2 separate regions of the Homo sapiens genome follow, and region 1 is linked to region 2. The links come from fine-mapping of genetic effects on gene expression. A gene starts in region 2. The other region holds a variant in brackets. All regions are shown on one strand. Distances are between the middles of the regions. Region 1 has its middle 27 kb from the start of CRB2. Region 2 holds the start of STRBP (spermatid perinuclear RNA binding protein).

Region 1 (5,367 bases), 61 kb after region 2:
AGACTTAATTCCTCTCTTCTCTGGACCTTGTACACTTTTTCCAATGCCTGTGTTTGTACAGTCACTTGTTCACAGATGTTAGCTGTACACCTACTATGTGTCTGGCTCTGTGCAGACTCTGCGATTCAGCAGAACAAGACAGGCAGTGGCAAACTCCATCTCTAACTGGGGCAAGAAGAGGGGAAATTAAGGAGGCAATAAATAACCATACTGCCAGGAGGGCAGGGCCACGGCCAGACCCCGGACGGATGGACGGACTGCGAATGCAGCCAGCTCCCTCCCCTCCCCACTCTCCTCTCTCCTCCCCACCTCTCCTCTCCCTGTCAGCATCAGCGTCCTTCTGCTACTCATTTGGCTTCCCCTACTTTGTGGAAAACAAGAGAGCTCTCAGCTCCAAAGGCCTCACCGGGGAGAGTATAACTGTTTCCCCCCAAGTTCCAGTTTAAAATGAAACCAAAAACAACTGCGGGGAAGGACCTGGTTGGCCTGGCTTGGGCCAGCAGCCCACTCCTTCTGAGCCAGTAGCTATGGCTGGAGGGTGAGGTCATGTGCCAGCTCCTGTAACATGAGGTCATATGGCAACATGAGGTCACGTGACAACTGCAGGGCCCACCTGCCTAGACAGGGTGGGGAGAGGAGCTGGTCTCAAAAAGGAGGAAGTGCTTTTGAGAAGGAATGGTGTGGGGAGGGTGGGTTGGCCCTCAAACCAGTAGGGATCTCACAAGGCCAGCGGGGTGCTTGTTGTGGAGCCTTTGGGAGGCTGCAGTCCCAAGCGATCCTTACCTTTTTGGTGCCCTCGACCCCTTTGGCATCGAGTGAAGCCTGTGGACCCTTTCTCAGGATTTTTTGTTTGTTTGTTTGTTTTGTTTTTGAGACAGAGTTTTGCTCTTGCTGCCCAGGCTGGAGTGCAGTAGCACGATCTTAGCTCACTGCAATCTCTGCCTCCCAGGTTCAAGCAATTCTCCTGCCTCAGCCTCCTGAGTAGCTGGGATTACAGGCAAGCACCACCATGCCCAGCTAATTTTTGTGTTTTTAGTAGAGACTGGGTTTCGCCATGTTGGCCAGTCTGGTCTTGAGTTCCTGACCTCAGGTGATCCACCTGCCTTGGCCTCCCAAAGTGCTGGGATTATAGGCATGAGCCACCACACCAAGCCTCTCAGGATCATATTTTCAAATGCATCAAATAAAATATCTAGCATCGCAGAGTAAACCAATTACATTGGTTCTGTCCACAGCCCCCTTGAGGACTCAATATTGAAGGAGTGTGAAAAGACAGGTTAATTAGAGATTTGCTCAGACATCTCCTGGAGGAAGGTGGTGGGAGCCGTGGCCTTTCCCTTGAGGGTGGAAGTTGGTGGACCCGTCTGGGTCTGGGGTGGCCCTGGGGAAGCTGGTAGTGAAGGGAAATGGGAGTGGGTTGACTGCTAAGACAAAGGTGACACCAGTCAGGGAGCTTGGCTGCTGGTGGCAAGCACAGACTCCAGCTAACCTGAAGGAGTGGTTTGTAAAAGTATCGGACTCCAGCTAACCTGAAGGAGTGGTTTGTAAAAGTATCGGGTAGCTCATGCAATTGACGGAGAAACTAGAGAAACAGGCTTGACGAGAACCCAGAGAGTTAAGATCTGCCAAGCTGCCACCTGGGAGCTGACTGCCGGCCAGCTGGTCACTGTGGCCCCATCTGACACCTCCAGCCATGGAGATGACGCCCACACAGCACGAGATGTCCTTCTATGGCGGCACCCTTTAAATGGCAGACTGACTCTGTGCCTCAATGTCACTCTACAGAGTCCTGGGAGGGCATGTCCAGCTGGCCACACTCTAGGCTGCACGTCCATATTCTAGTCACTGGAAGCACAGAAGATCTGTCCCAGGCAGCTTCTGTGGGGAGAGGCGGGGGGGGGTCCTTCCACTATCTTGGGATTCTCCTAATAGATGCTGGTCAACCAAAGGGGTGAATGTCTGATGGCTGGTTCTGAGGTGTGTGTGTATGTATACACAGAGAATATGTGTGTATGTGTACATCGGGCCATGTGTCATGGCTCACGCCTATAATCCAAGCCAGGAGTTCAAGACCAGCCTGGGCAATATGGTGAAATCCCATTTCTACTAAAAATACAAAAATTAGGTGTGGTGGTACATGCTTGTAATCCCAGCTACTTGGGTGCTGAGGCATGAGAATTGCTTGAACCTGGGAGGTGGAGGTTGCAGTGAGCCAAGATTGTGCCACTGCACTCCAGCCAGCCTGGGGGACAGAGTGAGAATGTCTTTAAAAAAAAAAAAAAAAAAAAGCGTACGTGAACTAAGCTATGTCCCCTCTTAAGTGCTGTTTTGTTGGGATTTCAGGCCTGTGGCATTATCTAATGACGTGAAACTCAGGATA[C/G]AGGCTCCTAACTTTCCCCTCAAAAAGGAAATACTGCTGGGCTTGAGACAGAGAATAGGATGAATAGGACCTTTCAGGAAATAAACCAGACCTTCCAGCTTCTTCTCTGCAATCTTTTAGAAACCAGGACTGCTGGCTGGGCGTGGTGGCTCATGCCTGTAATCCCAACACTTTGGGAGGCTGAGGTGGACAGATCAGGAGGTCAGGAGTTCAAGACCAGCCTGGCCAACTTGGTGAAACCCCATCTCTACTAAAAATACAAAATTAGCCAGGCGTGGTGGTGGGTGCCTGTAATCCCAGCTACTCGGGAGGCTGAGGCAAGAGAATAGCTTGAACCCAGGAGGCAGAGGTTGCAGTGAGCAGAGATTGCACCACTGCACTCTAGCCTGGGTGACAGTGCGAGACTCTGTCTGAAAGAAAACAAACAAACAAAAAAAAACCAGGACTGCTGACTTCTTTTGGACTGACTTAGGAAGGACACTGGGAGTCTTGAACTTACCCTGGCATGGGACTTCTCTCTTGTGAGAAGTAAATGGACTTCTGGTGATCAATGGGACGAGGGTGCAAAAAGATGGTCCTTATTCTGAACCTCAAGCTGGGGACATGGGACATAAGTGACCTGTGTTTGCTGTTGCTCCCCCATCCCCATCTCACAACACTGGACTGTGAGCTCTGGCAGGGCAGGTCTGCTGTCTCATTCCTCTGCTCATGCATCTTCCAGCCCAGGCACCAAGACCTGGACAGTTGTTCACCAGCCTTTCTCTTCCTCCTGGGCACAGAGCCAGGTGACACCTCCCGGCTTCCCTGTGGTTAGGCATGACATGTGACTGAGCCTTGACTAGTGGGACATGGACGGAAGTGACATGGGCCACTTCTGGCCTGGACCATAAAAACCTTCAATGTGTAATCCTCCAAATTCTTCCCTCATCCAGACGAAAGCAGATGATTCTGAGTTCTAGGAAAAGGTGTCACCACAATAAGGAGGGAGGCTGGGTCCCTGAATCACGTAGTGGAAGGCTCATTGACCAACCAGGAACTCTGTCCTGTGAGCAAGAAAAGTCTATTGTGTTACTGGGGTGGGGGTGTTTATTAGAGCAGCTAAGGTGATACTAATACGCTCAGAAAATAGTTGCTGAACCGAGTTGTTCTGTGATCCTGGATAAAGCACTGCCCTGTCTGGGCCTCAGTTTCCTCAACTATATGAGAAGGCTGGACCAGGTAATCCCTAGGCACCCTTGCTCCTGGGAAAAAGGAGGACTTTAGCTACACACACACACACACACACACACACACACACACACACACACACGCACTCACACTCACCCTGTCACGCACACTCCTGCAGTGGGGCTGTTTCCATAGGGACAGGTCCTGAAATGCCTTTCTGGATACAATTTCTCACGAGCACCCAAACAAGGACAACGTTCCAGAACCTTGTTTCTAACAAATGTCGGTAAAACAAAAACACCCGCTACAGACCCATAAAATGTGAAGACCAACTCCAGTGATAAAATATGTTCGTTTCTATGTATTTTTATAGCTTTCCGGATAATAAAAGGAACCGTGTTCTAATCGGATGCGTTTGTTAAATCAGTGTGCAGTGCCTCTACCCTCCTCTTCATGCACAGAGAGAGCTGCAGGGAGACAGGAAGTAGCAGCTTTTGTCATTACCTTGGGAACCTTTGGGACCAAAGGCCATCCTTATTGCTGTTTTCCCAACTCCTCCAGGAATGGTGGGAAGCAGCGTGCATCAGGGAAGGTAGGAACAGCAGAAGTTGTCAAAGATGCTTCTTCCCTAGCTTCTAGGACAGTTTCTCTTTTTATTCTCATGGGGAGAGAGGTACCAGGGTTGCTGCAGAGATGGGCTGGGGCTTGGTCAGGTAGGCTCTGGGATCACGACGGGGGTTCACACATACGTGCCAGGCACTGTTCTAAATGCTTTGGATATATAATACTAACGTTAAAAAAATAACTTCAGCTTTTATTTTAGATACAGTAGGTACATGTGCAGGTTTGTTACATGGGTATATTGACTAGTCTAAACTTCATGATAACCTTTGTGTAGGCCCTCATTTTACAGAGAGGGAAACTGAGGCATAAGGAGGTTGACAACTTGGCCAAGGTCACACAGCCAGTGAGTAGAGAAGTTGGTATTCCCACGCAGCCAGCTTTGTCTCCAGATCTGCCTCTCTAGGCTAAGGCTAAGGGTTTTTGTTTGTTTGTTTGTTTGTTTTTTTGAGACAGAGTCTCACTCTGTCACCAAGGCTGGAGTGCAGTGGTGCAATCTCTGTTGCAGAGACCACAATCTCTGTCTCCTGGGTTCAAGTGATTCTCATGTCTCAATCTCCTAAGTAGCTAGGATTACAGGCACATGCCACCACGCCCAGCTAATTTTTAAAATATTTTTAGTAGAGATGGGGTTTCTCTATGTTGGGCAGACTCCGGACGTCAGGTGATCTGCCCACCTCAGCCTCCCAAAGTGTTGGGATTACAGGTGTGAGCCACCATGCCTGGCCTAAGAGAAGGGTTTTAATCCATATCCTAAAAGCAGAGGAAGAGAGCAGCAAAGTGAACACAGACTGTATACTGTGGTCTGTGATTCTGCCCCACAGGTGACATTGGGCGACATCTTGAGACATGTTTGGTTGTCACAAGTGGGGATGAGGTGCTACTGGCATCTGGTACATAGAGGCCAGGGATGCTACAAAACACCCTGCACTGCACACAACAGTTCCCAACACAAAGAATGCTCCAGCCCCAAATGTCAATAACCCAAGACTGAGAAACCCTGCTCAGAGGTCAGACGGGCTGCAGCCTCTGCCACTCTCCAGCTGTGTGGCCCTGGGCAACTGACTTCCCCTCTCTGAACCTCAATGACTTTAGGAGAACTTTGGGTAAGGCAATCATGAGACAAAGCCTGACACATAGGAAGTACCCAATAAATAACAACAATGACTGTTTTCCTCTGATTCTCCCCTGACCGTCGC
Region 2 (5,367 bases):
CCCTCATTATGTTTAGGCAAGATTCCCACTTCCACTCAAACTTATTATTCGAACATACAATGGCTGCATTAAGATACTTCCTAAATCGACAAAAGAAGAAAACTAATCAACCCAGAAAGCTCCCAAGCTACCAAAGCGAACCTTTTATTTGAAATCATACTAGGTACCACACTACACATTACGTGAAGCCCACAGAGTGATAATTGAAGTTATTTCTGCAACATGATGAAATTTATTTCTTAGCAAAATCTGACAAGACTTAATTTTCAACTGTCAAAAGGGAAATCGTTTTCCAAGATTCTAGGAAACCTTGCTTACTGAAGCAGTCTCAAAGTAGTTTGCTTAATCCTTTCAAACCCCTAAGAATCTAACACAAGCCACAGAACAGTGAATGAGACTTGCACTGAAATAAATGTCTGTGTTCAAACCCCTAAAGGTTACTTCCCATGTGTTTGGCAAGCTGAAGGCCATATGTCCGCCCAACCCATAAGTGTCTTTCCTCAATAAAGCTAACATTACACTTCCCAACTCAAATCAAAATACCAGAGAATCCAAAAGCCTCCAACTAAATTTTACCTGAACCATTTGGGAGAAAAAGTCAACAATCCAGATCAGTTATTCACGCCTTGAAAGAGTGTTAAGAGTCAGAAAGCTCCAATTCTGCCACTTTTAGGAGCTAGGTGTACATTACTTCTGTCTGCCTATAGCATGGGACTCAGATATTACATCACCCCATGCTGCCTGAATACTGACCCATTACCCAGAAAGCACCAGGGTATCTGAGACACTGCACCAAGGTATCCCTTTCTTCCTCTCTTATGCATAGCCCTTGAATGCTACTGGCCACTGGGCCTGGTCTCTTCCAGTTTCACAAAGACATCTGCCCTGCACCTGCTGCAATCCCATTTCCATTCACTCTTGGTGCGCTCCTCGTGACCCTGTGTGGCCCTTCTGTCCACTCGTCAAACCAATATGCTAGGATGATACCCACTACACACCTCTCCCAAATTTGGGGATGTGCACTCAGCTCTCCCTTACCCCTTCCCCCTTCCTCATTTACTGGGTTCTGGAATTAAAAGCAGGCTCAACGATCTCTCTGACCCTAGGAGTATGAACTTTCAGATATGACACTGAGTTTAATGTCCTCCACTTTCCATTAACATCATTCCAGGATCCAGGTCCCCCCACCCCTCAATCTCCAGTTTCTCTCAGTATGGAATTTAATCCTCTCCATTTAGTTATTTTTCCAACTTCTGCACTCTGCCTGATCTTCCTTAGACTCTCAGTGACCTAAAAATCTTGGCCCCTTTCATCTCTCAAACTCAAAGTGTTCCAATCTCTCCCCATACTTCCACTCCTTGGATCTTCCATACTCTCTTAAGCAACCTGTGTTCCTAGCTCTCTCCAACTTAAGCAGTCATTTCCTGCCCTAAACCTGGGCATCCTATTTCCCCCACCACCACCACCACCACTCCAATCCATCACCTATGCCTTTCTAGTTACAGACATGTCCACATACACCTCTGCCTTGCCCTTCCCTTACTCCACTATAGGTATTAAGCATTCTTCTACATCCTCTACCCCAAAATAGCCTGTCTACCTTCCTTCTTTCTCCCTACCTCCCTTCTCCCTACAGCACAAAATTCAGTGCCCCAAACCTGTGCTTCCCTCCCTCCACCTACTGTACTCCAGACCTGTCCACCTTCCCCTCCAGTCTATCCCGTTGTCCCCCTCTACTGATTTCGTTCTCACCCTCCCCTCCACCTTCCTCCTCCCCAACCGCTCCACACTTCCCGCCTCAGAAATCTTTCCTTCCATTTGTCCCCACACTTTACCTGCCACTCCAAGAACACTTCCCTTTCCCCACCCCCTTTTGCCCTCCACCTCACACACTCCACGCCACCCCACACCTGTCCCTCTCCCCCAGCTCCTGCCCCTAACGTCCTCCAACACTTGCCAAGAACCCCTCACCCTCCGTCCTACCTCAAAATTCCCTCTCTTGCTGATCCCACCTTCTTCCATACTTCCTGCATAAACACCCTCCATTTCACGCACTTCTCCCGCTATCCTTTAAATGCCCCACACACCTCCTGCTCTCCATCCCCATCACCCTTCTCCTACTGTCCCCACCTCTCTCTGCAAGCCCTCAAACTAAGTCTCTGCCCCAATGAACTTCCCCCTTCCACCCCATACTCCTCTTCCCTGAGCACCAGATACCTGCCTTTTTATCCTTACATGTCAACCCCCTCCCGCCTCCCTGCAGGCTCCCCTATACACCTGGCCACACACTCCCTCACACCCCTCGCAGGTCTCCTGGAGCCCCTGGGCCTACCCTTCATTTCCCTATCACCCCAGAAGCCTAGGCACCCTGCTCCCCTCCCTCCCTTTCAGGCGCTCCCTGCCTGCCCTCACTTCCCCCTGCCCCGACCCCCTCCTCCATCGTTCCCCTTCACGGGCGTCCCGGTGGCCTTCCTAATACCCGCCCCACTCCCTGCCCCTGGCACGCAGCGCTCCTTCCAGTCCTGCTCGAGTCCCCAGTCTTCTCCCTCCATTCCCACCCCACTCGTCCCTGCCCTCCCCAAAAGCCCCCTCATTCCCTCTTGAACCCCACAATATAGTGCCCCCCCCCACCGGACGGAATGTCCTCCATCTCGCACTCGCCTGGCCCAGGGGGCCCCCCAAACCTGCCTGAAGGCTCTCCTCCTCCATTGGGCCGGATCCCTCTGCACCCCTATTTACCCCCAAATCTGCCCACACCTTCCGCCTGCCCCCCGAAGCCTCTCCCCAGCTCCTGCCCCCAATGTCCTCCAACACCTGCCCCGAGCCCCGAGCCCTCCGTCCCGGAAGACCTCCCGGCACCGCGTCCCCCAACCCTGCCCACGCCCTCCCCTGATCGGCCGGGACCCCGTCCCCGCGAAGGTGAGGAAGGCTGCCCGCTGCCCTTGCCCGAAGCGGCCGGGGCACCGCAGCGGCGGCGGCGGCGGCCACAATGCCGGAGCCGCGGGGCCGGGATTGCTCCCTGCTCTCCGCCTCGGCCGCCACCGCCGCCGCCGCTGCTAAGGACGCACAACAAACAATGCGGGGCCCGGGCCGGCTCCGCCAACCGCCTCAACCGCCGCCTTAACCGCCGCCCGCCCGGGACGGCCCGCCGCGCAGGCGCCCGCCCCGCCGCCGGAGCCTACCCGCGCCGCCGCGCTCTGCCCGCGCCCGGTACCCGCTCCCGCTCCGCCGCCGCCGCCACCTCGCCCGCTCGCGTCTCCGGCTCCTCTGCCCAGCGGCGGCGGCTGCGGCGGCTGCTGCCCTGGTGGCGCTCGCGGCTCCGGTCTCCGCTTCGGCGGCGGCAGCGGCGGCAGCGAGCACGTGACACCGTCGAGCGCGCCCATTGGCCAGGCCAGGGGGCGGGCCCCGCGGCTGCTGGGGAACGGAAAGCCCGCCCCCTCGTTCGCCGCGCGCCCCCTCCACGCGCGTCCTGCCGCACCTGAGAGCGCCGGCCAGCGCCCGCCGCCGCCTTGCTGTGCCGCCGCCTGCGCCAAGTGCGCACCTGGGAGCGCGCAGGGAGCACTCGCCGCCGGCGGCCTTATGCACCTGCCAGCGGACGCTTACGTAAACTGCGTCCCCGCCTTCCTCCCGGCCCCAGGCCCCCGCTCGCTGCAGCACCTGAGCCCCGCTGCGCTAGCGGCGTAACTGCGGCGGAGCGGAGACGAGCTGCGCTGGGAGGCTAGCGAAATGCACGGAAACTTCGTAACTTCCGAACCTGGGAGCTGCGCCGAGCCGCGGCGGCTAGCCGCCTTCCCCGGGCCCCGCACCCCAGTGCGGGATGCCCCCCAACCCCAGCAGCCACACAAATGGAGTAGGCGTCGCACTGCCTCCCGAGGTAGAGGGGCAGGCCAGTAGGCTTTGACTTGTGCCACCGCCCACCTACTTGCTGGCTGTGTGACCTTGGCCAAGTTACCAAGAACCGTTCTGAGCCTCAGTTTCCTCATCAGGAAAACTGGGACAATAATTCCAATTTAGGAGCTGTTGGGGAGATGGCATAAGACAATAGGTGTGAATCCTGGCACACAGCAGTCGCTGAACAGAAGCTGCTACAATCACCTCTCCTTCACCTGCCTATAATGAACCTCGCTGGGATTGAGTTTGGGCCCAGGACCTCTCTGACCTCCTTATGGTTGGGTCAGACTTTGGCTGAACACCTACCAGCTCTGTGCCAGGGGCGGCGCTGGGGAAGAATTAAAGGTTCGCTTTCTATTCTACAGTCCCTGGCCTCAAGTTCTTGGTGCCCAGCATTCTGCTTGCCAGTATACAGTCCCTGCTGTATACCGGGGGGTTTGCAGGCTGCAGGGATGCACTGGCAAATGAGACAATGTCTTTGCCCTAAGACAATTCCCAGCCTGGAGCAGAAACGACCTGACCACTCAGTGCCAAGACAGAGGACCTTGAACAGCCCAGGGGTTGAGGAGGGACTCCCCACAACAGCCCCCTTGGGGCCCCTTTTCATCTTTCTAACACACCAGGCTCAAATATTTTAACAGCTCTGTTTCATTCACAGAATAAAGTGTAAAAAACCCAATTTCAACTGAAAAGGCCTTGGTGATCTGGCCTTAAGCTTCAAGGTGCACGCCCTTCCCTTTGCCCCTCCTTCAGGCCAATGTGACCCTCCAGCCACACAGAACTACAGTACTGTTGTTTCCAGAGTATGCCCAGGTGTGTAGGAGCCTGAGTCTCCTGAGACAGATGCCAGGCCGCAAATCCCTTTCTAAACCCTCTCCCCACCTCTGACCACTCACACCTTCCTTGACCCTCCTGAAAAAAATCCTGGGTATCCTTATCAATCAGCTCAGAGTATATTCTCTGGAGATCCTTGGCTGCCTCAGACACATGGTCTAAGCTCCCTCGGCTTGAACATAGTCCTGTTAAGCTATATGTATTCTCATGGCACTAGATTGTAATTGTTTAGCTGTCTGTCTCCTCCCTGGTCTCTCAGTCCCTTGAGGACAGGGTCATCTTCCTGCCTAAGTGTGTTAGGGAAGACTACACGTGCACATGACATGAGATCATTAAAGCTGGGTTTTGTAGGATGCCCATAAGTATCAGAGGGAGAAGAGGCGCCACACTGTAAAGATCCAGATTCACTGCACACTAGCTGTGTGATCTTGGAAAATCAATCTCTCTAGTCTAAGTTTACTCATCTGCCAAGTGAGACTAATAGTATTGCATATTGTAGGGTTGTTAGAAGGATTCATTGCAACCGTATATCTAAGGCACTCAGCACGGTGTCCAGCACTTGGTTACATTTTTAATTTTTTTAAAATAGAAGAACAGCATGGCATTAAGGATTCAATAGTATTTCTTGTTTCAATATCTTTA

Evidence for each region. PIP is the estimated chance that this variant, and not a neighbour inherited with it, causes the effect.
Region 1: its variant is the best candidate, but not a certain one, in a credible set for the expression of STRBP in monocytes (Quach 2016, PIP 0.86).

Annotation. Positions count from the first base shown.
Region 1 is chr9:123,326,296-123,331,662 of GRCh38, forward strand. No RefSeq gene overlaps it. Among named protein-coding and RNA genes, the nearest start is that of CRB2, 27 kb to the right of the region's middle. RefSeq lists enhancers at 1-464, 465-964. The variant C/G (reference allele first, on the strand shown) is at 2,381.
Region 2 is chr9:123,265,254-123,270,620 of GRCh38, forward strand. It overlaps STRBP (spermatid perinuclear RNA binding protein), which reads right to left and starts at 3,333. Exons shown (of 19, transcript NM_018387.5): 1 at 3,183-3,333. RefSeq lists silencers at 3,059-3,108, 3,279-3,758 and an enhancer at 3,159-3,659.